Regions from separate parts of the Homo sapiens genome. Here regions 2, 3, 4, 5, 6 and 7 are each linked to region 1. The links come from fine-mapping of genetic effects on plasma protein levels. A gene starts in region 1. Each other region holds a variant in brackets. All regions are shown on one strand. Distances are between the middles of the regions.

Region 1 (4,066 bases):
ATGTGTGTATGAATCCTCCCTGGAATCTGGTTACAGTTTATGCTCCCAATCAGTAAGGTCAGAGTGGGGCCTGAGCCTCTGCATTTCCAACAAGCTCCCTGGTGATGCTGATACTCCCAGTCCATTGACCACACTTTGGATAGGAAGAGTCTACACTTGCTCTACTCAACTTCTCTCCATTCTGTCCTCAAACACACCACGCTTCCTTCCCCACCAGCTGGAGGGGGCTCTGCTCCCAGGCCCCAGAGGTCAAGGCAGACACAGTTAAGGTGTGGAAACCTCCTTATTGCCCGATGGATCCTCCAGAGAGGCGGTCCCTTACTTTCAGCAGGGCGCGTGTCTACCTGTTTCATGCTGTCTCACACACAGGGTGCCACCCCTGTGCTGGGCACTGGGTAAGTGCTCTGTACATATTAATTAGGAGTACTCATTTCAAAAATATGTGTGCCTTTGATAAATAAAAACAGTATGTGCATGTTGTGTTGGTGTGTGCTTCCTTGATTATTACTGAAGTTAAACATGTTTTCATCCATGTATTGACCATTTCTCTTTGTCCTTCAATGAAACCTCTGCTGATTTCCTTCGCTCATTTTTTTCCTGTGTCTTCGTCTGATGAGTTTCTCTTCTTTTTGTTTGTTCGTTTGTTTGTTTTGAGACAGTCTCGCTCAGTGGCCCGGCTGGAGTGCAGTGGTATGATCTCAGCTCACTGAAACCTCTGCCTCCAAGGTTCAAGTGATTCTCCTGTCTCAGCCTCCCGAGTGTGCCACCGCACCCAGCTAATTTTTGTATTTTTAGTAGAGACGGGGCTTCACCGTGTTGCCCAGGCTGGTCTCAAACTCCTGACCTCAACTGATCCGCCCATCTCTGCCTCCCAAAGTACAGGGATTACAGGCGTGAACCACCACACCCTACCTGTCTGATGGGTTTCTAAGAACATCTTAAAGGACATTACTTCCTTCTGACGTATCTTTTACCGAGATCCTTCCCAGTTTTTTGCTTAAGGTTAATCCATTTTTTCCTCCACAAAGTAACCTTGTATATGTATTGGTTTTTTCTTTGTTGAGTTCTCCCACTGTTCTGAGGCTTAGAAAGTCCTTTCATACCCAGACATCAGAGAAACAGATCCCGTGAGAGTAACTGGGATTGCAGGTGTGGGCCAGCATGCCCTGTTATCACTCCCTTTCTCTGAGTCAGCTTTTCTCTCTCAGTCTCGTCTACTCCTCGAACTCAGGAAATGTCACTACAGGTGGCCCCAGCTCCCGTTTACCTCCCCATAGGGAGCTCCTCTCTCCAGTTCCAGTTTCAAAACTCCCAAGGAAGCATTCTGGTTCACTCGCTTGGGCCACTGGCCAGAGGGATGGGATACTCTGAAAGATTCAGCTAGAGTCCCGGGCCCAGCCCTGGACCATCACTGTGCCCCCTGGTGAGATGCCAGGGCTGGGATTCAGGGAGAAGAAAGGAGGTTCCCGGACAGTCATTCCTGCCTCCCGCGGCTGCGGGCTCCCTGCCCCCATCCTGTGCACGAAGTGGGAGCTCCCGCTGTCTGGCAGCTCCCGCTGTCTGGCAGCAGCTGCTCTGCAGGGGACAGTCTGGACGGCAGAAAGTTCATCCTTAACCCCAGCCTTCCAGTCAAGGTTCCCACCAGTTTGGGACACCTGCAAGTGTCACATCCCACTGGGTGAAACTCTAAGATCCCTTTTAGGGGATCCCATTCGCTCCCTCCCTTCCGCCACCATGCAGCGCCGAGAAACAGAGCTCTGAACGAACCCTCAGATGTCCGTGCGCTGGGGCCTTTCCAGGACGGCGGCGCCCAGTCGTTTCTGGGTCAGGGCGACGCCTGGAACTGGGCAGGGTCCCTGGCACCGGGATCCCGAAAAGCAGACCTGCTTCTCCCTGTCCAGCCGGTTCCCCTTCCCCTTGCAGTCGGCCCCCTGCATCCGCGTCCTCCCTGCCAGTCGAGGGTCCCCAGCTCCAACTCCACCCTCCCAGCTGTGCGTTCATAGCGACCGCCCTCCCTGTAGGGACGCACGGATCTGGTGGTGGAGTCTTGGCCGGCAGGACTGGACAGGAACCGAAGGGGCGAGGCGGGTCCGGGGGTGGTGCGCTCCAATTGGGTGCTGTCCCCAGGGGGTGGGGCCTGATCCCCTATTTCCCGGCGCGCCGGGATCCTGCCACAGCTGCTGCCCACACCGCGCTCAGCGCCTTCACTGCCATCCCCGCTGTCCTTGCCGCCCCCGCCATGGGCCTAGAGCTGTTTCTTGACCTGGTGTCCCAGCCCAGCCGCGCCGTCTACATCTTCGCCAAGAAGAATGGCATCCCCTTAGAGCTGCGCACCGTGGATTTGGTCAAAGGTGGGCCCAGCCCGTTTCCCCGCGTGTCCACAAACCCAGTGCACCCCCAGGCCCCCGCCCTGCTCTGCCCTGAGCGTCTCGCCGCCCGCACAGCCCCCTCACCTCCTCCTGCAGCGTCTGCCACCAGAGAATGCTGTGGACTGAGTGGCCTTGGAGGGATCACAGCCTCTCTGAACCTTAGCTTGCCTTCTGAAAAGGAGGATAATGTTACCTTCTGCTCTGTAGGGATGGAAAGAAAATACTGAATGGAGTTGACAGAGTTCTTGCGTGGAATGCACGCATATAAATTCACAAAGCCCAGAAGACCTTGGGAAGAAGGACATGCTGTTGTGAGAATTAAGAGATGGGAAGAGATGAGCCACCCCAGTTTGCCTCCCCTCCCCTGGCCCACCAGAGTCCGGCTAGAAAACTTCTCTTTATCCACCTGCTGCACCTGGCCCCACCCACCAAAGCCCCCCAGCTGCCCCGGAATGTGGCAGGGCAGGGAGGCCCAGCCAGGGAGTGAGGCTGATCCAGGCCTCTAGTCCCAGACCTTGCTGTTTCTCAGGGCTGTGGGGCTCCGCTTGGGGAGGAGGAGGGAGGGTGTAGAGGTGCAGCGTTTTTATTCTGAAGACCTTTTCTGACTTCTTCCTCTTCAGGGCAGCACAAGAGCAAGGAGTTCTTGCAGATCAACAGCCTGGGGAAACTGCCGACGCTCAAGGATGGTGATTTCATCTTGACCGAAAGGTGCCCTCCTTCCCTCACCCCTCACCGCATCCGGAGCCCATGTGACCTTGGCTCTCCCCACTGGCCCCGGGCCCCAGTGGCCCTCCCATACCCCATGGGGCAGCGAGGGAGGGGAAAGGCGAGGGATCTGGCCGGGCGCGGTGGCTCACGCCTGTCATCCCGGCACTTCGGGAGGCCAAGGCGGGCGGATCACGAGGTCAGGAGACCGAGACCATCCTGGCTAACACCGTGAAACACCGTCTCTACTAAAAATGGAAAAAAAATTAACCGGGCGTGGTGGCGGGCGTCTGTAGTCCCAGCTACTCTGGAGGCTGAGGCAGGAGAATGGTGTGAACCCAGGAAGCGGAGCTTGCAGTGTGCTGAGATCGCGCCACTGCACTCCAGCCTGGGCGACAGAGCTAGACTCCGTCTCAAAAAGGCCGGGCGCGGTGGTTTACGCCTGTAATCCCAGCACTTTGGGAGGCCGAGGTGGGCGGATCACGAGGTCAGGAGATCGAGACCATCCTGGGTAACACGGTGAAACCCTGTCTCTACTAAAAATACAAAACATTAGCAGGGCGTGGTGGCGGCCGCCTGTAGTCCCAGCTACTGGGGAGGCTGAGGCAGGAGAATGGCGTGAACCCAGGAGGCGGAGCTTGCAATGAGCAGAGATAGCACCACTGCACTCCAGCCTGGGTGACAGAGGGAGCCCACTCCAGCCTGGGCGACAGAGGGAGACTCCGTCTCAAAAAAAAAGGAAAGAAAGAAAGGAGAGGTATCTGGGGAGAAGGTACAGCTTGGGGTGTGACCGGGATGAGCAGGGGCTGACAGAACATGTCCCCCCACCTCTCATCTTCCAGCCTTTTCTGAGCCGCAGGGCCTCTCCACTCCCAGACTGAAGGGTATTAGAAGAGAAGACAAGGGAACATTTTTCCACTGTTGCGCATTTGTTCAACAAATGCTAGCTGAAAAGAGCCTCTAGTGACTTGTTGCAGACTACCCAATCTACC
Region 2 (4,066 bases), 420 kb before region 1:
CGAGTAGCTGGGACTACAGGCGCCTGCCACCACGCCTGGCTAATTTTTTGTATTTTTAGTAGAGCTGGCGTTTCACCATATTAGCCAGGATGGTCTCGATCTCCTGATCTCGTGATCCGCCTCCCTCGGCCTCCCAAAGTGCTGGGATTACAGGCATGAGCCACCACGCCCCGGCAATTATTAGCTTTTATATTAGGAAAAAAACCTTAGAATTCAAGTAAAGCATAACACATAAATATACGCCTGCTAAACCAGTCCAACCCATTAATTCTTTTAATTCCACTTATCTCCAGTAAGGAATATCCAATCTTTTCTTCAGTGGCCCACATATTAATGAAGTACATCCCCCAATAAAACTGTATTCTCAATGTTAATCTGAGATTAAATTACCTCAGGCAGCACTAAAATATTTTGTTCATTTATTTAAACTATTTTGTACTAGATTAAGTGATTTCATTATTCTTTAGATTTAACCAATCCATTTCTAGGTCTAGCATTTTATCAGAAAACATTGAGATTTTTCATTCAAAATAAAGCTCTCAAATCAACCTTTGGGGGCATCCTGATTACATTCAGTTAGGGTTTTCCAGGGCAAGAAAACAGTGATGCAACACAAGCTCTTAGATATAAAATCTAAAACCAAAGAAAAGTTTACTGAAAGTATAAATACTTTCCCTATTCCAGTTGGTTATTCTTGTATTATCAACCTTGTACCATCAAACCCTAAAGACAACGGCTAAAAAAATTAAAAGTGGTTGTCTCTGGACAGCAGAAATTTTAGAGATAAGGAAGCAGGGAACTGGATTACCACTTCTCATGATAAGCACTTAAAAATTATTAGAGTTAGCCCTATATTTAAATTAAAAACATAATTGTATATAAACAGAGGCACTAATTTTTAAAAAAGAGAAAAAAAGGAAGACCCAACCCTTAAAGCAATAGTACTGAAAGCTGGTTACATAATGCCCTGGACTCACAAAACAGCCTTGAGGCAGCCATTTATCCTTGTGGGGGTTTCAGTCCCAGATCTGTAAACCTGATAATAAACCAGAATGCCAAGATGTTTTCAACACAAATATTCTACTATTCTAAAGCTTCAATGTATGATAAATGGCAGGGCACAAGTTAAAAGAGAAAAATGTATTTGTTAAATAAAAGCTAAACTCATAAGGGCTTGTTTTGTAATGGATGCTTAATGAAATTACAGTGATCAGCACAGTAATTTTAGGGTGACTCTTAAGAGAGTTAACGAAAGATGATATGGGTATTAGGGAATCTATCTCCGTTGATTAGACGGCTTCTTCATAAAGCACGCACGTTCCAAGCATTAATGATCCATCTGGGGCCTCTGGGAGCAGTATGTGCTAAGTGTCACGTAACAGCTTCTGCTCTCATAAACTAGTCAAGTGTCACAACCTGCTCTTTTCTGCAGACTGTGAGTAGTCAGAGACCAAAGGACAGAACCAAAACTGCTGGCTCCAAAGGATGGGCATGATCATCCATTTATAGCTAGACAGGCAAAGGGCACTGGCACTTCTCATACGATTCTTGACAAATTAAGAACACTATTAGATATGGCTTTCAGTTTTAAAAGATTATGCATTTCAGACCAGGTGCAGTGGCTCACGCCTTTAATCCCAGCACTTTGGGAGGCTGAGGAGGGTGGGTCACTTGAGGTCAGGAGTTCAAGACCAGCCTGGCAAACATGGTGAAACCCCATCTCCACTAAGAATACAAAAATTAGCTGGGCGGGGTGGCAGGTGCCTGTAATCCCAGTTACTCTGGAGGCTGAGGCAGGAGAAGGAGATGGAGATGCATCCCAGGAGATGGAGGCTGCAGTGAGCCGAGATTGTGCCATTGCACTCCAGCCTGGGTGACAGAGTGAGATTCTGTCTCAAAAACAAAAACAAAAGATTATGCATTTCAGGCTGTCCAATGTTAACTTACAGATCTTGCAATGAAAGAACCAGTATCCTCTTTGCTTCTAAAGGGAAGGAACAGATAGATATCTGTCTCACAGGAAACAAAAGCCAACTGCCTCCCACAAGCCATACATATGTATCATCAAAGAAGTGTCGATAGGAAATGAGAAAGCAGAGAATTGGGTTTGTAGCCAAGACTGTCAAGTGTACAAAAAGAATTTTCCTAATGTATGATTAACCATCCTATATCATATTTCCCCCTGCATTTTAAGTACCAAGTAAATGGAAAAAACTTCAAATTATTAGTTTATTTGTATGTATATATATTTCTCTCTATATATTAAGGTAAACATAGAAGAATCCAAGAGGCATGGAATAACTGACTTAATGTTTGAATTATCTCCATTTAATCAACCTGATACATGGGAAAGTTCTATAATCAAGAGGAAGTAAATTTTTTTTTT[TC/C]TTTTTTCTCGGAGACAGGGTCTTGCTCTGTTGTCCAGGCAGGAGTGCAGTGGTACAATAATGGCTCACAGCAGCCTCAACTTCCCGGCTCAAGTAATCCTCCTGCCTCAGCCCTCCAAGTAGCTGGGCTGAGGTAGGAGGATTGCTACCATGCCTGGCTATTTTTTTTTTTAAATTTTAATAGAGAGAAGATCTCACTATGTTGCCAACGCTGGTCTCAAACTCCTAATCACAAGCGATCCTTCAAGGGGGAAGTAATTTATAATGTTCTAAAATTACTTAATTTAAGTTATTGTCTAGCAAAATTTAAAACTTAGGTTATATGAAGACACCTAACAGCATGGAAGAAAATACAGACACACCTCAGATGGTACTTCATCTTCTTGTGCTTCATGGATCCTGCGTTTTTTACAAATTGAGGGTTTGTGGCAATCCTGTATCAAACAAGTCTGTTGGTATCATCTTGCCAACAGTATGTGCTCACTTCAATGTCTCTGGGTCAAGTTTGGTAATTCTTGCAATATTTTAAACTTTCTCATTATTATTATAACTGTTATGGTGATGTATGACCAGTGGTCTTTGATGTTACTATAGTAATTGTTTTGGGGTGCCATGAACTGTGCCCATATAAGACAGTGAACTTAATCTATAAAGTTCTGTGTGTTCTGAATGATCCACTGACTAGCCATTCTGTCTCTCTCCCTCTCCTTGGGCTTCCCTATTCCTTGAGATATAAAAATATTAAAATTAGGCCAATTAATAACCCTACAATGGCCTCTAAGTGTTCAAGTAAAAGGAAGACTCGCACATCTTTCACTTTAAATCAAAATCTAGAAATGCTTAAGCTAATTGAGAAAAGCACGGCAAAAGCCAAAAGGCTGAAAGTTAGGCCACTTGTGCCAGTTAGCCAAGTTGTGAATGCAGAGGAAAAGTTCTTGAAGGAAATTAAAAGTGCTATACCACTGAATATACAAATGATAAGATAGCAAAACAGCCTTATTGCTGATATGGAGAAAGTTTCCGTGCTTTGAATAAAAGATCAAACCAGCTACAACATTCCCTTAAGCCAAAGCTGAATCCACAGCAAGGCCCTAACTCTCTTCAATTCTATAAATGCTGAGATTGGTGACGAAGCTGCAGAAGAAAAGTTTGAAGCTAGCAGAGGTTGGCTCATGATATTGAAGGAAAGAAGCCATCTCCATAACATATAAGTGCAAGGCGAAGCTAGCAAGTGCTGATACAGAAGCTGCAGCAAGTTACCCAGAAGATCTAGCTAAGATCACTGATGAAGGTGGCCACACTAAACAACAATTTTCAATGTGGATAAAACAGCCTTCTATTAAAAGAAGATGACATCTAGGACTTTCATAGCTACAGAGGAGAAGTCAATGCCTGGCTTCAAAGCTTCAAAGGACAGGCTGTCTCTCTCATTAGGGCCTAAGCAGCTGGTGACTTTAAGTGGAAGCCAATGCTCATTTACCAGTCCCACAATCCTAGGGCCCTTAAGAGTTATGCTACATCTACTCTGCCTGTGCTCTATAAATGGAACAACAAAGCCTGGATGACAGCACATCTGTTGACAGCATAGTTATCGAACATTTTAAGCCCACTGTTCCTTTCAAAATATTACTGCTCATTGACAATGTAACCAGTCAGCCAGGAGCTCTAATGATGATACG
Region 3 (4,066 bases), 450 kb before region 1:
CACCCGTTCTTTCCTCACTCCTGAAGAATCCTACTTCTGCCGCACCAATGCTGTGGCACCTGAACACGCACCCCCAAAAGCTAGTTAGGAACACTCATCAAATGAGCTTCCCCCACAGGGATCTTCGAGGGTTGTCTGCAGGGCTGGGGGCTGACATGGGGGAAGCAGGGGACTGGGGTGGGGGCTGCGGGCCTGGATCCTCTCCAGTGGCCCTCTGGGTAGGGCTTCTTCCCTGACCCTGTCCCCAAGGAACTATCTGGATGAAACATTAAACCATGCCCTGGAGTGCACAGGGTTGGTGTTTCTTGCCAGTTCTAAGGCCCACAGTGCAGAATGGGCTATGGAGTGACAGCCCTCCTCAAGGTGGCAGGAGGCTGGCCTGGCCTGGTCAGCACTGCCTGACTACTCCTGCCTTCACGGAGCTTCTTGGGCCCCTCCTGGTGAAGCTCTTCATCCTAAATGTAGTCACTCAGGAAGGACTGGCTGCTCCCACTAGGAATGATATCACTTGGGGAATTCTGAACCAACCAAATACTCCACACAAGGTGGGACAGGGACTGGTGGGCTCAGCATGAATGACCTGATCCCAGAAGACCCAGATGGCACGAGGCAATCGCAAGCCAGCGCTGTGGCATGTGACCTGCTGAGGCAGGTGCTGCCCTTGGTTCTCAGCCCTCCAACCCTGTGAGGTGGGTGCCAGGAGCTGGCCCTCCATGGCCTACCTTATCCTGGCTGTTCAGTTCTTGATATGGAATGTGGGCAGGGAGATATGTATGCAGGAGGGCACAGAAGGCCAGCCCATCATTCCAGCTGCTGCTGAAGTTTGTAATGTCAATATTCTGAAGGAAAGGAAGAAAAACATGTAACCAACACATGCTGGGACCCTCTTAGGAGATGCCAAGGAGGACGCAGGAGGCCTCAGATGCTGCATGGCCTCCAAAACACAAAACCAAAACCAGGGCAGGGCGGCTGTGTCCAAGGGCTACCTGGTATCTATGACTCCCCAACCCGTCCCACCCACCAGCTGTAGATGGCTGCCCCTACGTGGTCACGCCTGGGCCTGGTATAACACGTGGCGTCTTGCTGACTTACTAGCTGTTGCATACAAAGAGAGGACCCTAGGCTGCTGAAGCTGGCCTCTACCATGACCTGTTGGGGTGACAGTACAGACCAGAGGATGTGGGTGGTAATCAATGACCCCCCCTTTTTTGTTTTTTGTTTTTTTTGGTTTGTTTGTTTGAGATGGAGTCTCACTCTGTCACCAGGTTGGAGTGCAGTGGCATGATCTCGGCTCACTACAACCTCTACCTCCCGGGTTCAAGTGATTTCTCCTGCTTCAGCCTCCCGAGTAGCTGGGACTACAGGCATGTGCCACCACACCCGGCTATTTTTTTTTGTATTTTCAGTAGAGACAGGGTTTCACTGTAAGCTAGGATGGTCTCAATCTCTTGACCTTGTGATCCACCCGCCTTGGCCTCCCGAAGTGCTGGGATTATAGGTGTGAGCCACCGCACCTGGCCGGTAATCAATGACCTTTAAAGCACCATGTATTAAAATGCAACTCATTCTCCATTGGTTGTTGAAGCATGTCAAAGATCCTCCAAGTCAGGGTGTATCTCAAAGTGCGCCCACACATGAAGATACCTTCTGCCCTTTTCACTGTAATGACACCTGCTCTGATGGATGGTGAGAAGCCAAGGAGAGCAACAACGTGGCCCCCTGAGCATTGGTCCAGGCCACGCACCACATGTACTGGAGATTGCTATAGTGTACCCCACCACAAACTTGTGGTTAAAAAAAAGTAATCTGAAAATACAGGTTTCGCTTAAAGATGTCTTTGATGAGGCAATTTAGTGGTCTGATTAAATGCCTCGATCCTCTGTGCATTGGTCTTTTTAGTGTCTGGTGTGGGGAGGTGGGATGAGTACAGGGCTCCTCAGCCCTGCAGGCTGTAGCCTCAACTCTGCCAGGGAGAAAGAAGCATGGGGCACAGGAGTGGGGCAGGGCTGTTCTGTTAAGAAAAGTTATGACTCAGCCTGACCTCCCAGATCAGGGACTCTAAGCTAAGACTTGCAGTCCATCAAAAACCTCTGCAATTTGCTGCCAGGCATG[C/T]GCCTGTGGTCCCAGCTACTCAGGAGGCTGAGGCGGGAGGATCCCTTGAGCCCAGGAGTTCAGGGCTGCAGCATGGTATGACTGTGCCTGTGAACAGCCATTACACCCCAGCCTGCCAACACAGTGAGATCCCCCCCATCTCCGAAAAAACACACAAACCACAAACCAAAACACCTCTGTAACTTGAAGGTGTCATCATCTGACAGCCCCCATCTTGCATTAGGAGCCGATTAAGGCCGGCTATGTGCTCTCCATGCCACCTCTTGGTGAACCACCTCAACTTTTTAAAATTTTTTGAGACAGGGTCTCTCTGTCACCCAAGCTGGAGTGGAGTTGACTCACTGCGGCCTTGACGGCCTCCTGGGGTTAAGCAATCCTACCTCAGCCTCCTGAGTAGCTGGGACTACAGGCTGGTACGTGCTACCACGTCCAGCTAATTTTGTTTGTTTTTTTGTAGAGATGAGGTTTCGCTATGTCGCCCAGGCTGGTCTGAAACTCCTGAGCTCAAGCGATGTCACCTCAGCCTCCAAAGCAGTGAAATTACATGCAAGAGCCACTGTACCCAGCCTTGACTTTCTTTTAAGGGGCACCTTATTCCATATTTTAAAGTATTTGTAACTATAAAAGGAATATATAATTCATTTTTTATTATTACTTTTTAAAGAGACAGGATCTCACTTTGTCTCCAGGCTGGAGTGCAGTGGCACAATCATAGCTCACTGCAGCCTTGAACTCCTGGGCTGAAGCAATCCTCCCACCTCAGCCTCCCAAAGTGCTGGGATTACAGGTGTGATCCACCTTACCTGGCCCAGAGTATTTTATCATATAAAATATTCTGCAATTCAGCTGGTATGTAGCCGTTACCCTTATTTGCAACAGTCCTTATGAAGATGAATCTACACATTTCAATTTTCCTAATTCACACTTTATGCAGACACCACAAGCTGAACAAGAACACCTCCCCACCACCATGTCCCACTTTCATTATTTCACGCCACCTTCAACTGCACCAAGAGCCAGCTTCCTAAAATTTTATTATTTTAGGACTGAGAAAGCCCAAATTTTATTATTCAATGCAAACCGTCCAGCTCCTGGGGAGCACTTTATACTCCTCCCAGGAATGAGTGATTCACAGAATGATGTTAACACTATTATTATCATTATATTATTAACTATATCTGTACAGAATCTTACAAAGTTTACAAAGCACTTTACGAATCCTGACCCCTCTTTATATACTGTTAGGACCTAACACCAAGTCAGGGACCTGGCTCAGAGACAAGGGCAGGTGGGGGCCATGGGAACCCAGGCTCAGAGCTGCAAGGATGTGTCCAACCAGCAAGGACCCAAGTAAAGCAGGCTGGGCAGGCCGCCCCTGCGAGGGAGACCGTCAGTCCAGCCTCACAGCTCTAGGCAGGTGTCCTTACACAGCAGCAGACCACGTGGAGGATCACGAGGCTGACTTCTCATCACCTGCATCATCAGAATGTATTGTCTGGCTTCTGACTGCACGTGCCCAGAACGTTCCAGTGTCTGTGCAAAGCATGAGCCTTCCAAAGGACAGCAGACCCAAGAGTTACTTTCACAGGCCATTTCCTCTCATTAACCTGAACATCTGCTGCTTCCAGCTTCTCTGATATGACCCAGAGATATTGTTATAAACTGCTGTGAGGAAAGTGACCAGATTAAGGAACGAGGAAACGCAAACCTGCCAAGAGTCGCAGGGGAAGGTGGCAGCAAGCCTCTGGTGGCTGGTGTGCCGACAGTCTGACCTGGCTACCTAAATGTGTGCCACCAGGCATCCACTGATGTCAGTCCTCCCCAAATACCTAGGCCAGGTGAGAATCCTCTCTGCCTCAGTCTGTAGTCCTCACACTTTCTGGCCACGAAGATGCAGTCCTGAGGGTAAGACCTGCTACATTCCCAAGAGGCCTGGCCCGCCCTCCATGCGGCT
Region 4 (4,066 bases), 390 kb before region 1:
GAGCATCTTGTAGTGCCAGAAAGTACTTCAGGGGTGGAGGGAAGGTGCATTGAGAAAGCAAGGAGTCAATGTGAAAGATCTCTCAACAGCCACTGATGGAATAACCTGACAACAAAACAAATAAAAATGGTAGTAGATTATAATCCAAAGAACAAATATCCATGAGTCTATACTAATATAAATGAATGATGTCAATAGAATAATACATATAAATAATTCCTTACAGATGGAATAAGGAAATAGAAAACCACCACTGAAACACCACGGTAATAACTGTTGTGGGCAAAATGCATAAATAAATGCTGAAATCAGTGAGAGAAAGTTTAAGAAGGAACAAAACTGATATAGTCTAGGTGTCTGTCCCCTCCAAATCTCATGCTCAAATGTAAGCCCCAGTGTTGGAGGTGGGCCTGGTAGGAGGTACCCGGGTCATAGGAGCAGATCCCTCATGAATGGCTTGGTGCTGTCCTTGTGAGATCTGGTTGTTTAAAAGTGTGTGGCACCTCTCTCCTCTCTCTCATGCTCCCCCTTTCTTCATGTGACATTCCTGCTATTGATTTGCCTTCCACCATGACTGTAAGCTTCCTGAGGCCTCACCAGAAGCTGAGCGGATGCTGGCACCATGCCTCCTATACAGCCTGCATAACTGTAAGCCAATTAAACCTCTTTTCTTTATAAATTACCCAGCCTAATGTATTTCTTTATAGCAATCCAAGAATGGACTAACACAAAGATATTTACTAATTCCTAGCAGCCAATCACCTAACCAAGTGAACAAAGTTAATTTAACATCAGAAGTAACAAGACACATCAATCTCATGTACCCCTGATAAAATAACTTGAAAAGGACACATCACCTCTGCAGTATCCCTTCCATTAAAACATAAACTCAGGCTGGGCATGGTGGCTCATGCCTGTTATGCTAGCACTGTGGGAGGTCGAGGTGGGCGGATCACCTGAGGTCAGGAGTTCAAGACCAGCCTGGCCAATATGGTGAAACTCCATCTCTACCAAAAAATACAAAAAAATTAGCTGAGTGTGGTGGTATGCGCCTGTAATCCCAGCTACTCGGGAGGCTAAAGCATGAGAGTTGAACCCAGGAGGCGGAGGTTGCAGAGTGAGACCTTATCTCAAAAAACTCAAAAAACAAAACAAACAAACAAAAAACGAAAAAAACTCCATAAACTCAACTTAAATCAGAAGAAAATATCAGACAAGCCCATCTGAGAGACATTCTGCAAAATAACTGACAAGTATTCTTCAAAAGTGTTGAGGTCATGTGAGACAGGGGAAGAGTGAGAAGCAGCTGCAGACTGGTGGGGACTAAAGAGATAAGACAACTAAATGGAAAGTAGGAGCCTCAATTTGATTCTAGAATTAAAAAAGGACATTAGTGGAAAAACTGGTAAAATTCAAATAAATTCTGTAGGTTAGTTAATAATATTTTACTGCTATTAATTTCTTACTTTTTGTAACTGTTCTATAGTTATGTAGGATGTTCCTATAAGGGAAGCTGGGGGAAGGGAACTCTAATATTTTTGTTAAGTCTAAACTTATTTCAAAAGGAAACACACAGAGAGACAGAACACCATAAATACTGATATGCATGCTGAAGGGTAGTGATTATAACTTACTTTGTGATAAAGCAAATATAAAAGAATGCCACAGAATCTAGGCTGTAAGTAAGTGGATAATTCACGGCACAACTTCTTGCAACTTTTCTGTATGTTTGAAAATTTTCATTATAATATGTTGGGGAGAAAATAAGAGCTGAGATTGATAAAAATAAGTTCTGATTTTTATCAAGAACCACAGGGAAGAGGAAGAAGAAGGGGGAGTGACTAAATATCCAATTAGACTGTAAAGTGCAGGAGGGTAGGATTTCTATCTCATTTTATCCTGGGACTTTCATGGCCTAAGGCTAGATCTAAAGCTGAGGCAGAATCTGATTTAGAGTAAAAAAGAAAATTCTGTGAAAGTTTTTAAACAGAAGGTTTGGCTTTCCAGTAAAACCTCCTAACTTCATACAAATTTATGGTATGTACCCTTAACATAAATCATTTTTTTTTCAAAATACTCAGTTTATAAAAATCTCTGGCCTCAAGTAACACAATTTAGACAGGTAATAA[T/C]GGTATGAAATTTCCTTACAGAACACAACTACACTTGGACTAACGAACTTCTTAAGACATCTATATGCCTGAGCTGAGAGACACGGTGATAGGGTCACACTGACACTGGGCAATCCCAGGCTTCTCAACCATTTACACCAGCCAGCTGAGGTTTATGCTTAACATTCTGGAGCTCATCTGGTCACTGTGCACTTTCCAACTACCTGTATCCATGTACTTGGCAGCAGAATCTGTGCTTTTCAGCTTAGGGCATAAAGCTAATTCATATACTATCTACAAAGATTCACTAAGGTGGCACCAGTCATGACCCTAGCCATTTAATTCCACTGCTGGTAATACCAACAAAAGAGCATTTGATTAAGTGCATTTATAGTAAGATTTCTCTGGTATGAAACATTTTCCTGCAAGTGCATGATGCTAAAGGATAATAGATTTAAAAAAAAAAACTATTGTAGAGCAAGAGGCAGCATCTTTTTTTTTTTGAGACAGAGTCTCGCTCTATTCCCCAGGCTGGAGTGCAGTGGCGCAATCTCGGCTCACTGAAAGCTCCGCCTCCCGGGTTCACGCCATTCTCCAAGAGGCAGCATCTTTTTAAACTTCAGTAATGAAGACACTTAAATTTTTTAAACGAAAATTACACACTGTATTTTTAAATTCATCCCTAAGTAAATAAGACAACCAAGGAAGAAAAGCAGTTCAAGACAGAGCTCAGAAATCCTACTCTCATCACAATTTGGAAAACCACAGTGGCTTTTTATGGCCACGAATCATTTGGTTGTTCTTAGTTTTCTGAGTGGTTCTTTTCTTGAATGACTGTTTAAGATAAACGATCACAGTATCAACTACTGTGATATAGATTCATCTAAGTGTGTTTCCTTTCTCCTGTATTTGCAATGTCTCAACCACACTCCACTAAGGCATGACAACAGACTGAAGTGGAGAATGAGACCAGCTTTTACATAGACTGACGGCATGTACCCCCATGCCGCTGGCACTACCGTTTGATGCATCACCAGATGATAAAATAAGAGCCAGGAATAGAATCTTAATGCATTTAATCTGTGTTTTCAATAACCTTGGCCTACAGACCTTCCACACCCATTCTCCACCCACAAAAGCCAAGGTAACAGAAATAATTAAACGGTAGTCTTTGCCCAATAATATTCCAAATTCACTTATTCCTAAGAGTCACTTGGGGTGCTTGTGAAAATGGCATATCCAAGCTACTGAGTCTACATCATTAGATCTGAGGGGAGGCCCAACATTCTATATTTTAACAAGTGACTCAGGTAAGCTTGAGACACACCACTGGTGCTGGTTTCCCCTGGTAAACCTCGCCCTGCTCTAACCCCATCAAGATAAGCCTGGAAAGCAGCAGTGGAGAGTGGAGAAGGCCTCGAGGGTTGGCTTCAGCTGAGCTCAGGAGGTATGGGAAGACCCTGAGCCATTTCTCAGTGCAGCACTCCACTCTCCTCAGAGGCCACCTGGAACATGGAGCGTCACTGTCCTCTGATGCCCCAGGATCACCTCAGTGCCCTCTGATAGGGGTCTCTCCTCCTGGGCTTTCTCAGGCTTGCAGCCACACCACCGTGCCCAGGCTGGACTCACAGCTTTAGGGTACTGGCACAGGGTTATACTTACCCTCAGAGGCTGCTGCAGACTTGCACTGGCTCTGACCACACTTAACGCAGACTGAAGAAGGTCAAAAGGCTGACTATTGACAGAACTAGGGCACACCTACCAAGCAGCAGAGTGGAAACGTTCCTGAATTCCTGGTTACCATCTCTGCCTTCAACACATAGAGCTTTTTAAAGATGCCTAGGACACAACTTGTGTAGGTGCTTTAGTTATTTGCTGGCAGCTAAGCAAAATCCTGCAGGCAACTCAGGCGTCTAAAATCTTTGACTTGTGGGCCAATGAGAGCTATCATTCTCAGC
Region 5 (4,066 bases), 420 kb before region 1:
TACATGAAGTACCCAAATGATAAGTACAGCTAAAAGAATTTTCACAAAGTGAATATACCATGTAGTCGCCTCCCCCAAATCAAGATACAGAATGAATCAGAATCCCAGAAAGGATCCCTCAGTTCCCCTAAAGATAACCACTATTCTGACATCATAATAGATTAATCTCACCACTGTTTTGGCTTCATTTAAATGGAATCATAGTTTAGACTCCTGTGCATCTGGCTGCTTCTGCTCAATATTACATGTGTGAGATTCATCCATGCTGCTGCATGTTGCAACAGTTTATTCTTTTTTTTGCTTGTTTTGTAGTACCTTATATATCACAATTCATTTATCCATTTACGTCTTAATGATTATTTGGGTTGTTTCCAGCTTTTGATTCTTATGGAGACTATTCAACTTCAGCAGATACTGCCAACATTTTCCAAACTGGCTAGAACAGTTTAGAGCCCTGTCAGCAGGGTGCAAGTGTTCTTGTTTCTCTGCTTCCTTGCCAACACTTGGTGTTATCAGCTTTTTAAATCAGGCTTTCTGTGTCTAATCTGCTGCAGACATAGCAAAGCCTGGCTATAATTTATTTTTTAAATGCTAATAAAAATTAGATCCTGAGGGCCAGGTGCAGTGGCTCACGCCTGTAATCCCAGCACTTTAGGAGGCCGAGGTGGGCTGATCACAAGGTCAGGAGATTAAGACCATCCTGGCTAACACAGTAAACCCAGTCTCTACTAACAATACAAAAAAAATTAGCCGGGTGTGGTGGCGGGCGCCTGTAGTCCCAGCTACTTGGGAGGCTGAGGCAGGAGAATGGTGTGAACCTGGGAGGTGGAGCTTGCAGTGAGCTGAGATAGCGCCACTGCACTCCAGCCTGGATGACAGAGCAAGACTCCGTCTCAAAATAATAATAATAATAATAATAACAATAATAATAATTAGATCCTGAAAATTTTTTCACTTGCTATTAACTCTCATATTTTACATGCATCTTTGTTAGTATTTCCTACATCATACTCATGTCTGGAAACAATTTTATTTCTTTCTTTCCAATTTTATACCTCTTATCTCTCTTTCTGCCTTACTGCACTGACTAGAACTTTATTTTTTAATTTTTTGTAGGGACGGGGGTCTCACTATGTTGCCCAGGCCAAGTCTCAAACTCTTGGCCTCAGGGGATCCTCCTGCCTCAGCCTCCCAATAGAGCTTTACATACAAAACTGAATAGAAGTGATGAGAGCAGGGTCTTGTCTCTTTCCTCATCTCTGGAAGAAAGCTTTCAATAAGTCACCATTAAGCTTAATGTCCACTATAAATATTTTTTGTAGATGCCCTTTATCATCTTTTTAAAAGTCCCTTTATTCCCAGTTTGTTAGAAATTTGTTCTGTGGGGCTTTTTTTTTTTTGAAACTAATAAACAGGAGTTAAATTTTATCAAATGCTTTTGTTCATCTACTTTGATTAGATCACATTTTCCCCTCCATTTTGATAACTTACTCTGAAGGACTTTAATTCATTGAAATCTTTTGACAGTGCATGTGGCCAATTCTGATGAATATACTGTGGCCAATTAGAAGGAATGTGCAATCCACTATTGTCTGGTGCAGTGTTTTATAGCTCAGTCAGGACAAAGTAGTTAATAGCATTACTTACATCTTCTATAGCTCTACTAAATTTCATTTGCTTTTTCTATTCGTTAATGAGAGAAGCGTGTTAAAATCTCCAAATATGCCTATTTCGCCTTTTAGTTCTATCAGTTTTCCTTTATATTCTCTGGGGCTATGTTACCTGATGCATATGAATTTATGATATGCTCTCAGTGCCTCTAAAGTCTTACTGGGCAGCATGAAGTCTTCCAATGTTGTTTTCTAAGAGTGCCTTGGCTATTGTTATTGTTTTAATTCTTTATCATTACGGACAATCTCAATCTCTAGTAATATTTCTTACTGAGAAATGATGCTTTGAAATTAGTATAGCTCTTCCAGCAGTCCTTTGGTTAGTGCTCGCATAGGACATCTTTTCCAACTCTTTTACTTTCAGTCTTTCCATTTAAAGTGGGTCTCTTATACACAAATCATGGTTGAGTCTATTGTTTTTAACATGAAAATCTTTGTCTTTTAACTGGAATATTCAGCCTATTTACCTATAATGTGATTTTTACATATATGGATTTACATCTATTACTATACCTTTAGTTCTTTGTTCCTTTTCTCTCCTTTCCTGCCTTATTTTGGATGAATCAAGTATTAATATTCTACTTATCTTCTATTAGCCCCTTATTTTCCATTCTTTTATTACTTTGCTAATATGTGATTTTAAATATTATAGCCACACTGAAAAAGTCAAAAAATATATATTTTATCAAATATATTAAAAATAT[G/T]ATCATTTCAACATGTAATCAGTATTTTTTAAATTTTTTAAATGAGGTAGTTTACATTCTTTTTTCTTTTTTTTTTTTTTGAGACGGAGTTTCGCTTTGTGCCCCAGGGTGGAGTTCAGTGGCGCGATCTCAGCTCACTGCAAGCTCTGCCTCCCGGGTTCAGCCATTCTCCTGCCTCAGCCTCCCAAGTAGCTGGGACTACAGGTGCCCACCTAATTTTTTGTATTTTTAGTTGAGACGGGGTTTCACTATGTTAGCCAGGATGGTCTTGATCTCCTGACCTCATGATCCGCCCACCTTGGCCTCCCAAAGTGCTGGGATTACAGGCGTGAGCCACCGCACCCGGCCTACATTCTCTTTTTCTATATTAAGTCTTCAAAGTCTTCAAAATCTGGTGTTTTATAATCACAGCACATCTCAACTCAGAATAGCCACATTTTAAGTTCTCAGTAACTCCATGCAGCCAACGTCAACTGTAGCAGAGTGTAGCCCTAGAGATTTACAATGTGAAACCCTTCACTTATTCAGAGTCTATGACAAATTAATTTCCTAACCTCCTGAACAATTCAAAGACCTTGCAACACCTTAATTACATTTACTGTCCCCCTCCTAACTTTTAAACCATTTTATCTTAAATTTTCAAGCTACATATATCTTTAAACAAGATATTTTTATTACACTGCAGTCAATATTCATATATATTTACTTTCACATTTACTCTTCCACTGTTCTTTATTCCTTCCTGAAATTTTGTTTCCCTATGGGATTATTTTCTTTCTGCTACAAGAACTTCCTTTTTCTTTCAGAATGGGCCTGCTGGTGACAAATCCTCTTTCTGTTACCTATTGAGAAATCGGCTGTTGATCCCATTATTCTTCTTAACCTAGTATCTTTTTTCTCTAGCAATTAAATATTTTTTTCACTGTCCTTGACTTTTAGCACTTATGACACTCCTAGCCCTCTCTTTTGGTATAACCCAATTGTATGTGTCTTAACCCTTCTATTATGTCCCTTGTCTCCATTACACTATGTTTTTTTCATCCTTTCATTTCTCGGTGCTTCACTGTGGATATTTCTTACTGATCAATCCTCTAATTCACAAGTCTTTTCTGTGTTCAGTGGTTGTGAAACACATATATGGGAGTTCCTAGCTCAAGCTAATGAATTTTTTAGTCCTTAAATTTTCATTGGGCCAGGCACGGTGGCTCACGCCTGTAATCCCAGCACTTTGGGGGGCCCAGGTGGGCGGATCACCTGAGGTCTGGAGTTCGAGACCAGCCTGGACAACATGGCAAAACCCCATCTCTACTAAAAAAAAAAAAAAAAAAAAAAAAAAAAAAAAAAAAAAAATAGTGGTGGGTGCCTGTAATCCCAGCTACTCAACAGGTTAAGGCAGGAGCATCACTTGAACCTGGGAGGCAGAGGTTGCAGTAAGCCGAGATCGCACCATTGTACTCAGGCAAGAAGAATGAAACTCTGTCTCAAAAAATAAAATCAAAAAATAAAATAAAATTTTGATTTGATTCTATTTTACAGATTCCAGTTCTCCGGTAAAACTCTCTATCTCTTCATCTGTTTCCTTAAACTCATAAATTGGTTATTTTAAAAGCCTATCTAAGGGTTCCAATATCTGGATCACCTCTTCTTTTCTTGTTACTCATTCTTTCTCTTGATTTTCATTCATTTGATCCT
Region 6 (4,066 bases), 500 kb before region 1:
CCATCACTTTTGTTGTATTCTTGTTATCAGCAGTGAGTCACCAAGTTCAGCCCACATACAAGGATGTGAATACCACGAGGCAGAGATCATGGGAGCCATCTTAGAGGCTGCCTGCCATACCTTGCCAGATGGATAGGATTTAAGTAAGGCATAGTAAGCATTCTAGTTAGTGAATTGGAGTTTTGAAAGGTTTGACTGGGGATGACCCTTGGTTGGAAAAAGACATCTAAATAGGAGGGTAGGAGGCCCAGATTGAACTGGGTTTTCAATGCCAGGCCAAAGAGTTTTACAGTGATGTGCCACATAACACATCTAATGGTGGGCCCGTAAGATTATAATGGAGCTGAAAAATTCCCATTGCCTGGTGATGTCATGGCCATTATACCATCCTATTGCAGTGCATTACTTACGTGCTTTTGATGATGTTGGTGTAAACACACCTATTGCACTGCCAGTCATATAAAAATATAGCACATACGATTACATACAGTGCATAATACTTCATAATAAATGATGATGTTACTAGTTTATATATTTACTATACTATTAATCGTTATTTTAGAGTGTACTCTTTCTACTTATAGGAAAAAAAAGTTAACTGTAAAACAGCCTCAGGTACATCCTTCAGGAAATATTTGAGAAGAAAGTAGTATTATCATAGAGGATAGCTCCATGCATATTATTGCATGGAGCTTCCAGTGGGACAGGATGTGGAGATGGGAGACAGTGATATTGATGATCCTGACCCTGGGTAGGGAGGGTCTCTGGATAGCCCTGACCTAGGTTAATGTGTATGTGTCTGTCTTAGTTTCAAACAAAACTGTTTAAAAAGTAAAACAAAAATAAAATTTTAAAAATGGAAATAAACTTATAGAATAAGGATATAAATAAGCTATTTTTGTACAGCTGTACAATGTTTTGGTATTTTAAGCTAAGGGTTATTACAAAAGAGTCAAAAGGTTAAAAATTAGAAGGTTTATAATGTCAAAAAGTTACTATAAGCTAAGCTTAATTTATTGAAGAAAGAAAAATTTAAAAATACATTTAGTGTAGCCCAAGTATACAGTGTTTATAAAGTCTACAGTAGTGCACAGTAATGCCGTGGGCCTTCACATTCATTCACCACTCACTCACTGACACACCCAGAGCAACCTCCAGTCCTGCAAGTTCCATTCATGGTATGTGCCCTCTGCAGGTGTACTGTCTAAAAAATTTTTGGCCGGGCATGATGGCTCATGCCTGTAATCCCCGCACTTTGGGAGGCCAAGGCGGGTGGATCACGAGGTCAGGAGATCGAGACCATCCTGGCTAACATGGTGAAACCCCGTCTCTACTAAAAACATAAAAAATAAGCCGGGCATGGTGGCACGCACCTATAGTTCCAGCTACTCAGGAGACTGAGGCAGGAGAATCGCTTGAACCCAAGAGGCGGAGGTTGCAGTCAGCCAAGATCGCGCCACTCTACTCCAGCCTGGGTGACGGAGCAAGACTCCATCTCAAAAAAAAAAAAAAAGGAACTAAGTCTATTTTATTCCTATTGTATCTGTATAATTTACAATAGAGGTTGGCATATAGTAGGTGACCATGAAAATTTGTTGACTGAATAATGCAGTTACCAGATTTGTTTTTTGAAATTTCTGACAATCTAATCCCAAGGAAGCTTATGTATTTACTTTAGGAGCTTCTAATCAGGATATAAATGTTGTCCCCTATTTCTTTTCTTTTCTTTTTTTTTTTGAGACAGAGTCTTGCCCTGTTGCCCAGGCTGGAGTGCAATGGCGTGATCTCGGCTCACTGTAACCTCTGCCTCCCAGGTTCAAGCGATTCTCCTGCCTTAGCCCCCTCAGTAGCTGGGACTACAGGCATGTGCCACCACGCCCAGCTATTTTTTTGTATTTTTAGTAGAGGCGGGGTTTTGCCATGTTGTCCAGGCTGGTCTTGAACTCCTGACCTCAGGTGATCCACCTGCCT[C/T]GGCCTCCCAAAGTGCTGGGATTACAGGTGTGAGCCACTGCACCCGGCCTACTTGTCCCCTATTTTTAAGGCAACATTATTCAAATTACCCAGGACATAAGAAAGGGGGAAGTTGAGCTTTAATCATGGGCCTAAATCCTTCCCTGTGACTAAAAGCTCTTTAAACAGTTCATCATTCTGTCGAGCCTCAGAATCTTGGAAGACAAACTTGGTGTCTAAGAACAGACAAAACTGGTTCCACCCACTTAGCAGTTCAGGAGTACAACCTGCCAGTAGACTGGTCAAGGTCCCAACACCTGGTCCTGCCCATTAGTCACGCTGCCTCCTGCCTTACTGGCTGACCAGAAGCTATTTTTGTGCAATGCCGTTACGTATGAAGAGAGAACTTGTTCTGGGGGAAGGAGTAAGGGAAGCAAAACCGTAAGGTGGGTGTATTAGTTCTGCTATGGCTGCCATAACAAAATACCACAGACTGGGTGGCTTAAACAGGAAATTTATTTTTCATAGTTATGAAGGCTGGAAGTCCAAGATCAAGATGTTGGCAGGGTTGGTTTCTTGTGAGGTGTCTCTCCTGGGCATGCCAATGGCTGTCTTAACGCTGTGTTCTCCCATGGCCTTTTCTCTCTGCACATACATCCCTGGTGTCTCTTCCTCTTCTTGGAAGGACACCAGTCCTATTGGATTAGAGCCCTGCTCTTATGACCTTATATAACCTTAATTACCTCTTTAAAGGCCTTATCTCCAAATACAGTCACCCTGGGGATTAGGACTTCAAAATATAAATTTAGGGGAGACAATTTGATAGGCAAGGTTTATTTCAAGTATGTCTCTTACCCTCTCATCCATACTCTTATAAAGGAATGATAATCTCCCATCTGTGGAGATGGCAGTTGATGATCCCTAAAAATTCTTCACATCCATGGTCTTGTGATATTACAGCAGCCTCCAAGTTAGCAGAGGTACTGTCATTATCCTTCCACTTCAGATGAAGAAACAGACCAAGAGGGTTAACAGGTTCTCCCAGTCACAGAGTATGGAATCTGGTTTCCGACTCCTGGGCCTCTCTGTGCTTGCCCTTGGCTCCTCAGGACTGGCCCCTGCAATGCCCCCACCCAGATTCTTTTTTCTGTTTTTGAGGTAGGATCTCACTCTGTTGCCCAGGCTGGAGTGCAGTGGCATAATCCTGGTTCACTGCAGCCTTGACCTCCGGGGCTTAAGCAATTCTCCCACCTTGGCATCCCAAGTAGTGCACACTACCACACCTAGCTAACATTTTTTTTTTTTTTTAACTTTTAGTACCGACGAGGTCTTGCCACGTTGCCCAGGCTGGCTCAAACTCCTGGGCTTGAGCGATCCTCCCAAAGTACTGGGATTACAGGCATGAGCCACCAAACCTGGCCCTCCCCACCTAGATTCTAACTCCCCAGTTTTTCTTCCTCCTGCTCTACTCCATCAAAACTTACCTACCTTTCAAAGTTCTTCCATTTGATTTTCAAAGTGATGACTAACTGGATGAATAAACCATTATTAATAAACTATGTTGATTTGTTAGTGAATGAGATATTACTAGAAGGGAGCTAGGCTAAACACATTAACAACCTATGAGATTTGACATCTTGAAAAATATTTTTTTCACATACCATATCCAACTTACTTATATTCTGACAGAAATTATGTAAAGTAGATATTATTATTATCTCTTTTTCCAAAAAAACAGATTCAGAGATTAGGTAGCTAGGCCAGGATCACACAGGTAAGTAGCAGAGGTGGAACTTGAACCCAGATAACTGCATATACTTTTCACTACGTCTTGCCCCACAGCCAAACTTTATTAGTTAGTTCAGAAGACTGTTACCCTGAAGTTCACCTCTGAATAGTTAAAGATGTGGCCTTCCCTCGCCCGTCTAGTCTACCCTAACCTACCCTCAATTGAGTTCCCACAGTGCTGGGACTTGAATCTCAGCTCCATTCCTGCTTAGCTGTGGTGATCACAAGCACATTTTTTCCCTCCTCACTGGGCTTTTGTTTTTTCACCTGTGAAATTAAAGCATTGACTGGGGTCATTTTTCAGTTTTAAGACTCTAAAAAACTGATT
Region 7 (4,066 bases), 290 kb before region 1:
TGGAAGTCAGAGGTTTCAGGGAGCCGAGATTGCACCACTGCACTCTAGCCTGGGCGATGGAGCAAGACTCCATCTCAAATAAATAAATTAATAAATACAGAGCAAGATTCCATCTTAAATAAATAAATATACACCTGTAATCCTAGCAGTTCGGGAGGCTAAGACAGGTCGATCACCTGAGGTCAGGAGTTCGAGACCAGCCTGACCAATATGGCAAAACTCCATCTCTACTAAAAATACAAAAATTAGCCAGGCGTTTTGACGTGTGCCTGTAGTCCCAGCTACTTGGGAGGCTGAGACAGGAGAATTGCTTGAACCCAAGAGGTGGAGGTTGCAGTGAGCCGAGATCTCGGCTGCACTTCAGCCTGGGTGACAGAGTGAGACTGTCTCAAAAGGAATAAAAAAAATACAAAATAAAAAAAATGTAGTAAGATTGCAGAGTCGTGCCGCGGAAGCGTGCTGGTCCTATCCATGTAGTGAAGGCTGATTTCATACACAAATGTCACAAGAACTTTTTTTCTTTTTCTTTTTTTTTGAGACGGAGTCTCGCTCTGTCACCCAGGCTGGATTGCAGTGGCGCGATCTCAGCTCACTGCAAGCTCTGCCTCCCGGGTTTATGCCGTTCTCCTGCCTCAGCCTCCCAAGTAGCTGGGACTACAGGCCTGTGCAGCAGATGCAGGGGGGCCACTAGGCCCAGGCAGTCTTGGGACTTGTGTGTCTCCTGCTGTGCATCCATACTGGGTGCTTTAGAAACGGCAGGCAGACCAGAAGCCCCTGTTGCAAGTGAGGACAAAGTGTGGGAAGGCCGTGAGGGTCTGCAGTCCTAGATGGCCTGGTCCTCAACCTGCAGTGCACTGTTGATGCGCTGGAATGCCTCCTCCTTCTCCCGGTCCAGGTCTTCAGCAGTGACCCGGTACCCCATCTCTAAGGGAGGTGGCAGCATCAAAGGCTCCCCTCGCCTGCGTGGCAGCAGGGGAAACTTGCATATACGGGGCCTAGAGGCCTGGGATCTGGGGGAGCCACCCCTGGAGGCGAGTGTCTGCCCTGGTGCTGTATCTGCCGTCTTTTCACACTGGGTGTGACCCGAAGAGACAGCCTGAGGTCCGTCCTCACTCACTGTGTTTGAGGAACTGAGGGTCAGCTGGCAGTGGGATGAGGCTGGCCCCTCTTCCGCTTTTGTTCCGGGAGGCCTCCCGTAGAGCTGTAGGGGCTCGAGATGGCATTTCATTTGGGGCACGAGCTGGTCCAGGAGGTCTGGGATCTCTGGTTCTGACCTCTGGGCACCTGCTGCAGCTGTGGCTGAGGCCCAGAAATGTGAAGGGCCTCCATCCACTCCAGTAGTGACCCCAACGTGGGGTTCAATGTGGAGCGGGGAGGGGCTGCTGCGGCAGCTGCAGGAGCAGAAGTGCCATGCCTTGTTCTTCTCATGCCCGCATCCATGCTTGCAGCTGGGAAGGGGGCAGGAATCAGCGAGGTGACCTGGGCTGAGTCCTGGGAATCAGAAGAGGTGGCAGGAAGGGGATCTGAGGAGGAGAACAGGGGGCCTGGTGGTCTGTGCTTCTTCCCAGACATGGGAGCTGTAGAGGGGACCCCTGCAGCAGATGCTAAGGGGTCCAGTAGGCCCAGGCAGTCTTGGGACTTGTGTGTCTCCTGCTGTGCATCCATACTGGGTGCTTTAGAAACGGCAGGCAGACCAGAAGCCCCTGTTGCAAGTGAGGACAAAGTGTGGGAAGGCCGTGAGGGTCTGCAGTCCGAGATGGCCTTGTCCTCAACCTGCAGTGCACTGTTGATGCGCTGGAAGGCCGCCTCCTTCTCCCGGTCCAGGTCTT[C/T]AACAGTGACCCGGTACCCCAGCTCTAAGGGAGGTGGCAGCATCAAAGGCTCCCCTCGCCTGCGTGGCAGCAGGGGAAACTTGTGTGTACTGGGCCTAGAGGCCTCGGATGTGGAGGAGTCATTCCTGAGGGTGAGTGTCTGCCCTGGTGCTATATCTGCTGCCTTTTCACACTGGGTGTGACCTGAAGAGACAGCCTGAGGCCTGTCCTCACTCACTGTCTTTGAGGAACTGAGGGTCAGCTGGCAGTGGGATGAGGCTGGCCCCCTCCTCCGCTTTAGCCCCGGCAAGCCTCCCGTGGAGCTGTAGGAGCTGGAGATGGCATTTCGGTTGGTGCAGGAGCTCGTCCAGGAGGTCTGGGATGTCGGGTTATATCTGATTTCTGACCTCTGGGCATGGAGGTCTGTCTGCAGAGGCCCGGGCCCGGGCACAAAGGGAGAGAGGCCTCCATTGTCCCGCAGGGGCCGAAATGCAGACGGTGCATCCCCGGTGACCTCGGGGACCCTTCTCTGATCACCAGGATTCTCTTGGACTCTAGGGTCCTTGTCCTGCTCAGGCATCCCTGCCCCGCTCTCCTTGAGGGCCCTCAACACTATCTTCCCTGGACACAAGTCTGGGGACAGCCGGGTGTTGTGGACCCCAAAGGGGTGACTCCCGGCTCCTGGGCCCCACAGAGAGTCCATGTTCTCAGTGCAGTGGCTGAGCTGGAGGACGCCCTGGAACTCGGAGCACACAGCACTGGCTTGCTGTGGTACCTGTGCAATCAAATTGAAGGCAGGATCCCAGGAAGGAACGCAGGGCTTGCAGGATCACGGAAAACCTTCTTAGAGTTGTCTTGACACCACTGATGTCAAGTGTCCGGGTGCTTGTAGGATGGCCTGCCACTCAGTCCACGGGCAGGAGCAACGGGGAGATCCCACAGGCAAAGTGAACTGGGGGATGGGCTGAACGGGCTCCAGGCAACTGAGCCCTACTGGCAGGTCCTCGGCCTGGGCCCGAACAGGAAGGAGGGGCACAGAGTGCCCAGGTAACCGCTCCTGGGAGCAGTGGGGAACCGTCGGTTGCTTGAACTCTCGAGAGCTGGGCTCTGAGCGTCCTCGTCCAGCCGCCAACTCCGCCAAAGGCTAAGCCAGCAGTTTCTTCTGTTGCCGGGCAACGCGCCTTTTAAACCTGAGGGAGTGGGCGCGTGAGCACATCACGGCGCCCGTGACAGAGCGAGCTTAACGGATTAATAAGCGCAGCCAGGTACCCGCGCGAGGCACTTGCTGGCAATGGCGGGAGGCGGACGTGGGGGGTCATGCAATAGGTACTGGAAGGAGAGAGGCGGGCACAAAGGTTGCGGGAGGAACAGGTGCCCACAATGGTGGCAGATCTGCCCGTGGATCACTGAAGATTCCTGCTCTCCTGCTGAGGTGGAGATTGCAGTGAGCTGAGATCGCACCATTGCACTCCAGCCTGGGCAACAAGTGCAAAACTCAGTCTCCAGATAAAAAAAAGAAAAAGAAAAAAAAGAGGCCGGGCGTGGTGGCTTATGCCTATAATCCTAGCACTTTGGGAGGTCGGGGCAGACGGATCACGAGATCAGGAGTTGGAGACCAGCCTGGCCAACATAGTGAAACCCCGTCTCTAGTAAAAATACAAATTTAGTCAGACATGGTGGCACGCGCCTGTAGTCCCAGCTGCTCCGGCGGCTGAGACAGGAGAATCACTTGAACCCGGGGGCGGGCGGGGAAGGGATTGTGATGCGCCGAGATCGCGCCACTGCACTCCAGCCTGGGCAACAGAGCCAGACTCTCTCTCTTTTTTTTTTTTTTTTTTTGAGATGGAGTCTCCCTCTATCGCCCAGGCTGGATTCCAGTGGCCTGATCTCAGCTCACCGCAAGCTCCGCCTACCGGGTTCACGCCATTCTCCTGCCTCAGCCTCTGGAGTAGTTGGGACTGCAGGCGCCCGCCACCACACCCGGCTAATGTTTTGTATTTTTAGTAGAGACGGGGTTTCACCGTGTTAGCCAGGATGATCTCCATCTCCTGACGTCGTGATCCCCCTCCCAAAGTGCTGGGATTACAGGCGTGAGCCACCGCGCCCGGTGTTGAAACTCCCTTGAGGCATTTTCTTCGGCCTTCGGGTCCATCCTCTGTCTCCTCCTTGACCTCCTCATCTCCTCCTCGCCACTGCCTTGGGGACCTTGGCCAGGCTCATGGCATCCAGCAGCCACTCAATGTCAATACCTCCATGTT

Direction of the effects. Alleles are on the strand shown, and positions count from the first base shown. The strength of an association depends on the size of the effect and on how common the allele is.
For the plasma level of the protein whose gene starts at base 2,176 in region 1, C is the high allele of the variant in region 2 and TC is the other (moderate association).
As copies of C replace T in region 3, the plasma level of the protein whose gene starts at base 2,176 in region 1 goes down (moderate association).
In carriers of allele T in region 4, the plasma level of the protein whose gene starts at base 2,176 in region 1 tends to be lower than with C alone (moderate association).
As copies of G replace T in region 5, the plasma level of the protein whose gene starts at base 2,176 in region 1 goes down (moderate association).
For the plasma level of the protein whose gene starts at base 2,176 in region 1, C is the low allele of the variant in region 6 and T is the other (moderate association).
With allele C in place of T in region 7, the plasma level of the protein whose gene starts at base 2,176 in region 1 is lower (moderate association).

The links. PIP is the posterior inclusion probability: the model's chance that the variant is causal. Protein levels are from antibody-based Olink assays in UK Biobank. Linkage for the fine-mapping came from a reference panel and not from the study's own genotypes, which makes the PIPs less certain.
Region 2: its variant is fine-mapped to the plasma level of the GSTT2B protein (UK Biobank, PIP above 0.99).
Region 3: its variant is fine-mapped to the plasma level of the GSTT2B protein (UK Biobank, PIP above 0.99).
Region 4: its variant is fine-mapped to the plasma level of the GSTT2B protein (UK Biobank, PIP above 0.99).
Region 5: its variant is fine-mapped to the plasma level of the GSTT2B protein (UK Biobank, PIP above 0.99).
Region 6: its variant is fine-mapped to the plasma level of the GSTT2B protein (UK Biobank, PIP above 0.99).
Region 7: its variant is fine-mapped to the plasma level of the GSTT2B protein (UK Biobank, PIP above 0.99).

The regions. Positions count from the first base shown.
Region 1 is chr22:23,959,305-23,963,370 of GRCh38, reverse strand. GSTT2B (glutathione S-transferase theta 2B) reads left to right here and starts at 2,176. Exons shown (of 5, transcript NM_001080843.4): 1 at 2,176-2,351; 2 at 2,990-3,077. The coding sequence starts at 2,240. RefSeq lists an enhancer at 3,290-3,955.
Region 2 is chr22:24,377,712-24,381,777 of GRCh38, reverse strand. The region is part of intron 14 of SPECC1L (sperm antigen with calponin homology and coiled-coil domains 1 like); the gene reads right to left. All of the region lies in intron 15 of SPECC1L-ADORA2A (SPECC1L-ADORA2A readthrough (NMD candidate)), which reads right to left. Among named protein-coding and RNA genes, the nearest start is that of ADORA2A, 48 kb to the left of the region's middle. The variant TC/C (reference allele first, on the strand shown) is at 2,387.
Region 3 is chr22:24,408,361-24,412,426 of GRCh38, reverse strand. It overlaps SPECC1L (sperm antigen with calponin homology and coiled-coil domains 1 like), which reads right to left. Exons shown (of 17, transcript NM_015330.6): 15 at 723-839. It overlaps SPECC1L-ADORA2A (SPECC1L-ADORA2A readthrough (NMD candidate)), which reads right to left. Exons shown (of 20, transcript NR_103546.1): 16 at 723-839. Among named protein-coding and RNA genes, the nearest start is that of ADORA2A, 17 kb to the left of the region's middle. RefSeq lists enhancers at 3,037-3,536, 3,537-4,038. The variant C/T (reference allele first, on the strand shown) is at 2,113.
Region 4 is chr22:24,350,534-24,354,599 of GRCh38, reverse strand. All of the region lies in intron 11 of SPECC1L (sperm antigen with calponin homology and coiled-coil domains 1 like), which reads right to left. All of the region lies in intron 12 of SPECC1L-ADORA2A (SPECC1L-ADORA2A readthrough (NMD candidate)), which reads right to left. Among named protein-coding and RNA genes, the nearest start is that of ADORA2A, 75 kb to the left of the region's middle. The variant T/C (reference allele first, on the strand shown) is at 2,130.
Region 5 is chr22:24,383,451-24,387,516 of GRCh38, reverse strand. All of the region lies in intron 14 of SPECC1L (sperm antigen with calponin homology and coiled-coil domains 1 like), which reads right to left. All of the region lies in intron 15 of SPECC1L-ADORA2A (SPECC1L-ADORA2A readthrough (NMD candidate)), which reads right to left. Among named protein-coding and RNA genes, the nearest start is that of ADORA2A, 42 kb to the left of the region's middle. The variant G/T (reference allele first, on the strand shown) is at 2,375.
Region 6 is chr22:24,461,741-24,465,806 of GRCh38, reverse strand. All of the region lies in intron 3 of ADORA2A-AS1 (ADORA2A antisense RNA 1), which reads left to right. Among named protein-coding and RNA genes, the nearest start is that of ADORA2A-AS1, 31 kb to the left of the region's middle. The variant C/T (reference allele first, on the strand shown) is at 1,972.
Region 7 is chr22:24,250,450-24,254,515 of GRCh38, reverse strand. It overlaps the pseudogene POM121L9P. Among named protein-coding and RNA genes, the nearest start is that of GGT5, 7.4 kb to the right of the region's middle. RefSeq lists an enhancer at 2,435-2,935. The variant C/T (reference allele first, on the strand shown) is at 1,830.